Linked DNA regions of Homo sapiens: region 2 is linked to region 1. The links come from fine-mapping of genetic effects on plasma protein levels. A gene starts in region 1. The other region holds a variant in brackets. All regions are shown on one strand. Distances are from middle to middle.

What was found. PIP is the posterior inclusion probability: the model's chance that the variant is causal. Protein levels are from antibody-based Olink assays in UK Biobank. Linkage for the fine-mapping came from a reference panel and not from the study's own genotypes, which makes the PIPs less certain.
Region 2: its variant is fine-mapped to the plasma level of the GDF15 protein (UK Biobank, PIP above 0.99).

The regions. Positions count from the first base shown.
Region 1 is chr19:18,384,842-18,387,856 of GRCh38, reverse strand. It overlaps GDF15 (growth differentiation factor 15), which reads right to left and starts at 1,699. Exons shown (of 2, transcript NM_004864.4): 1 at 1,391-1,699. The coding sequence starts at 1,667. It overlaps MIR3189 (microRNA 3189), which reads right to left and starts at 1,295; the gene lies at 1,223-1,295. RefSeq lists enhancers at 1,575-1,744, 1,333-2,155.
Region 2 is chr19:18,366,852-18,369,351 of GRCh38, reverse strand. It overlaps PGPEP1 (pyroglutamyl-peptidase I), which reads right to left. Exons shown (of 5, transcript NM_017712.4): 5 at 1-2,500. Among named protein-coding and RNA genes, the nearest start is that of GDF15, 18 kb to the left of the region's middle. The variant T/C (reference allele first, on the strand shown) is at 1,143.

The DNA.
Region 1 (3,015 bases):
GAGGAAGACTCCCTCTCAAAAAAAAAAAAAAAAAAAAAAAAAAGGGCATTTCTCCCCTTGAATCTCCTGAATCTCAGTATGGCTGGCTCCTCCTCTTCCTTCCAGCCTGCCTAAAATAGGAAGCACCCTATTTTATTTCCTTGTGTATCATTCATATTCCCTACTTAGAATCTTAGCTTGGTTGACACTGTGCCTGGCACACAATAGGTGCTTAGTAAATACTTGAAGGAATTAATGTATATCTGATATTCAGGCAGCCTGAGATTCCAACCATGGCTCTGCTTTTCTTCTGGCAGTCAAAAACTTACTTGCTTCACTTATTTATTTATTTATTATGGTCTTGCTGTTACCCAGGCTGGAGTGCAGTGGGGCACTCATGGCTCAGTGCAGCCTCAATCTCCTGGATTCAAGTGCTCCTCCCGCCTCAGCCTCCTGAATAACTGAGACTACAGGCACACACCATCATGTCTGGCTAATTTTTTTTAAACATTTTTGGTAGAGATGGATTCTCGCTATACTGCCCAGGCTGCAATGTTCTGGCCTAAAGCGATGCTCCCACCTTGGCCTCCTAAAGTGCTGGGATTACAGGTGTAATCCCGAGAAATGAAGAGTGCCAAACCCATCACATTCCAGACTACTGAGCCTCTAGGAATCACAGCCCCTCAGGCTGGTACAAGTGTTAGGGAGACTGGGGAGACTGGGGTTTGAGGGTGCCTTAACCTAGTTGCTAGGCTTAGCAAGGGTGAGAGGTTTGCCGGAGTCACACGGCACAGATGGGTTTAGGGCGGGCTAAGAGTGTGCCCCTCTGCCTGCCCCCTCCTGGGTCCCACCACAGCCCAGACCTCATCCAGTGCCCTGCACCCCTGGAGCCTCCATGGAGGGCACAGAGATGGGGAAAATACTCTCCTCCTCCCCTAACAAGTCGCTCGTTGCATGTGACTTTAGCAGTGCCTTGACAAGCGATTTCATCAGATTCAGAACCAGCTCCAGCTGGCTCTGCCCATCACAAACTTCTATCCATGCACCACACCCCCATTGTTTCTCTTGGATCCTGGCCCCAGCCCAGGTCAGGGACCATGCCCACACCGCACGCCCGACCCCGTCCCCGGGTTTCCCAGGTGCTGTGCACATTCAGGAGGGTCCCTGGCATCCCTGTACCTCAGTTTCCCCATTTGCAACTTGGGGACAGGTTATAACCTCCCACGTTGTGGGTGCAAATCAGGCATCGGCTACCCCATCAGACCCAAGGGGATCCAGGATATTCCTACCCAGGGCACAGATGGGGCAACTGAGGCTCAAAGGTAGGTCTGGGCTTTTCAAGATGAGGAATCCCTGATTAGATATGGGGGCTGCTTGGGGGGTGGGAGGGGATCTCTAAGATTTCACTTACCTTCTGGCGTGAGTATCCGGACTGCAGGGGCCGGGACGAGGTCGGTGTTCGAATCTTCCCAGCTCTGGTTGGCCCGCAGCCTGGTTAGCAGGTCCTCGTAGCGTTTCCGCAACTCTCGGAATCTGGAGTCTTCGGAGTGCAACTCTGAGGGTCCCGGGAAACTTGCGCGGCTCGCCTCGGCCAGAGACAGGGCGCCCCCATGCGGCAGCCACGAGAGCACCAGCAACACCAGGAGCATCTGAGAGCCATTCACCGTCCTGAGTTCTTGCCCGGGCATGGCTGTGCAGGTTGCGGCTCTGAGCTGGGACTGACCAGATGCTGCCGGACCGGCCTTTATAGTCCCCGGACTTTGTCCGTCTCCGCCTGCTCAGTCCCGCCCTCCTCCCCCTGCCTGCAGAGTAAACACTCCAATGACCACAGCTGGGCGGGGTCTGGGGGTGTATTTAGGGGGAGGATCTTTAGGTGGGGGCGCTCCTAGTAAAGCTAGGGCACATTTCTGGGCCTCAGTATCCTCTTCCTCGATATGAGGACACCATTCCAGCCTGGGAGTCTTTTTGGAGGAAAAAAAGACATTGTTACTATGTGAAAAATTCCAGACAAGAGTTTAAGAGGTGGCTGTCTATGCCCATGGGATTTCCTCTCTTCTCTTTTTGGTTGGGGTCAAAGGCTAAAGATGGTGAAAAACAAAGGAAGCAGAGGAGAACGGGCTAGATGGAGCCAGGAAGGGCAACCTTGATGTGTCATGCCTCTCTGCCATGCCTGTTTCCTCACCAGGAAAAAAAGGACTGAGACTCTCACTGGAGAGGTGGTCAAATGAGGGGTAAAGCACAGGGCCAGACACATAGGAGGCACTTGATAAACTGGGTGTTATTGCAGTTACTCATCCTCCTCTGGAGAACTCCTACTCATTCTTCAAAACTCTACGCAAAAAGCCCCTCTTCCAGGAAGTCTTCTCCAACATTATCTTTCCAGTCTAAGCAGGGTGCTCCCAAACCCCATCCTTTTGTCTGGCTCAGCGCTCACCTTGAAGCCATCCTCACAGGATTCATAATTCTGGGGGCCAGGCATGGTGGCTTATGTCAGTAATCTCAGCACTTTGGGAGGCCGAGGTGGGTGGATTGTTTGAGCCCAGGAGTTCGAGACAAGTCTGGGCAAGATGGCAATACCTCATCTCTAAAAAAAAGAATTCTGCGCCGGGCACGGTGGCTCTCGCCTGTAATCCCAGCACTTTGGGAGGCCGAGGCACGTGGATCATCTGACGTCAAGAGTTCTAGACTAGCCTGACCAACATGGAGAAACCCTGTCTCTACTAAATATACAAAATTAGCTGGGCTTGGTGGTGGGATTACATGCCTGTAATCCCAGCTACTCGAGAGGCTGAAGCAAGAGAATCGCTTGAACCCAGAGGGCGGAGGTTGCAGTGAGCCAAGTTTTCACCATTGCACTTCCGCCTGATCAACAAGAGCAAAACTCTGTCTCAAAAAAAAAGAATTCTGGACAGAAACTTAGTTATAATTAAGCACTAATCAGGCTGCACTTTGACCCACTTCCTTGTGACCGCAAGTTGCTTGTAGCACCTGATACCGACCATTTGCTATAGATGTGATTTCCGACCTTAGAATCAT
Region 2 (2,500 bases), 18 kb after region 1:
CAGGCACTTCTGTGGGTAACTGGGGGAGGCACAGCGGGGAGAAAGAGCAGGAGGAGAAAGGGAATTTGGGGGAGGGGGAGCAGTTTGGGGTGGGACTGGGTCCCTCAAGTCCTGGGAGTCCCCCCCCACTCAGCTTGTGACAACTGTCCTGGAAACCAGGGGACAGAGTCTCTCAGCAGGTATGTTCAGCGTCCACCCGGGAATTAGCTTTCCAGACGTGGGCACTGGGCAGCGCCTGCCCCTCAACAGCCATTCTGCCAAGGGTCTAAGTGGAACCCCAGCCCTCGGCCGGCCTCCTCACTGCAAAAACGGGGATGCTTTCCCTCCCAACCAGCAGCCCCGGGCCCTCATGAGGCACTTGTGCCCAGGGAAGGGAAATTTAATCCGGATTATAAAAACAAAGCCCTCTCCTGCCCCCTCAAGTTAGGATGCTGAGGATGGGTGGCTGCATGGGGCAACCTGGCAAAGACCTGCCTCCTTGACCATGATCAGCACCCCATGCTGGCCGTCACGCAGCTCCCAGAGGCCTCAGGATAGAGGCTGGGGCTGCGGAGAATAGGGCTTTGTCCAGCTGTCTCCAAAAGGGACGTCTAGGTTCAGACGCCACAAGAGGCAGAGAGGTCAAAGGCCAACAGTCTAGACAGTGGCAGCCAAAAGGGGGCCAGCTGTGCGGGACAGATTTCCATGAGCCATCCCCCTCCACCTGGTCACCTCCCCAGGGCACTGGAGTGCAGGTGTAAACATACCAGCTGGTCTTGCTTCCTGGAAGAAACTTCCAAGACTAAAAGGCATCTTGAATCTACTTTTCCAGCTCTCCCATCTGCCCCAGAGTGGATACTTTCTGTTCTAGATGTTTCTATGCCAGCAACGAGCAGAAAAGCAGAGCAGGGAATTCTTTTTTTTTTTTTTTTTTGTGACAGAGTCTTGCTATGTTGCCCAGTCTGGAATGCAGTGGCGTGATCTCACACCACTGCAACCTCTGCCTCCCAGGTTCAAGCAATTCTCCTGTCTCAGCCTCCCAGGTAGCTGGGATTACAGGCACGCACCATCCACTCTTGACTAATTTTTGTATTTTTAGTAGAGATGGGGTTTTGCTATGTTGGCCAGGCTGGTCGCAAACTCCTGGCCTCAAGCGATCAGTC[T/C]GCCTTGGCCTCCCAAAGTGCTGGGATAACAGGCATAAGCCACTGCGCCTGGCCCCCCTTTTTTTTTTCTTAATTTTGAGGCAGGGTCTTGCTCTGTTGCCCAGGCTGGGGTACAGTAGTGTAATCATGGCTCATTGCAGCCTTCACCTCCTGGGCTCAGATAAGCCTCCCAACTCAGCCTCCCAAGTAGCTGGGACTACAGGTGCTTGACACCACAACTGGCTAATTTTTTTTTTTAATTTCTGTAGAGATGGGGTCTCGCCATGTTGCCCAGGGCTGGTCTCGAACTCCCGGGCTCAAGCAATCCTCCCACCTCAGCCTCCCAAAGCACTGGGATCACAGACATGAACCATCTCCAGGATTCCCCTCCTTGCCGAGAAACTACTGCCATCTGGGACATTTCCTTCACACATCTGGCTCTGATGGGGAAGCTGTGATTTCGGCCCCCACCCCCTGTCCCTGCCCAGCCCTGCCTCTCCAAGTGGCCTCAGGTTTGTTCCAGCCCTTGATTGGAGCAGGTGGGCTAGGTGGCCCCAAGCTCAGCCCACCCACCTTGAATTCCTGCTTCTTCCTTTCTTTCCTTTCCACTCCATCTTATTTCTTTTTTGAGCTACATCCCCACACGCATGCAACTGACCTTCTTTGGGGTGGGGAGGGGGTGCTAGGGGCCGAATAAAGGAATAAAAGTGCGCAGACTTGGGCATCTTAAAAGAGATGCCATCATCAAGTTGGTCAGGGTACCAGGTGCCCTGATCACTGTCCCTGCACCCCTGTTCCCTGCCTCAGCACCCTCCATGAGGACTCATCAGGGAAGCCCCCCCAATCACTTCTCACCTTTCTCCCCCAGCCTTCCCACCACACCCCTCAGCCTGTCTTTTCACCATTGACACTTGCCACCCCTATTCCTCTTCCCAACACCTGCCAAGTCCCACCCACCTTGCAGACCCTTCCTATGCCACCTGTAGCCCCTACCCCAGGCTCTGAAAATGAGGCAAGAGGGAATGGGACTTGGTCCTTCCCTTCTTGCATGAGGATTTTTTTTTTTTTTTTTTTTGAGACAGAGTCTTGCTGTGTCACCCGGGCTGGACTACAGTGGTGTGATCATGGCTCACTGGGGCTTCAACCTCCCAGGCATAGGTGATCCTCCTGCCTCAGCCTCCTGAGTATCTGGGACCACAGGCATGCACCACCACATCTGGCTAATTCTTGTATGTTTTGGTAGATATGGGATCTCTTGCTATGTTGCCCAGGCTGGTCTTGAACTCCTGGCTCAAGGGATTCTCCTGCCTCAACCTCCCAAAGTGCTAGGATTACAGGTGTGAGTAACCACACCTAGCCCACATGAGGATATTTTAAGC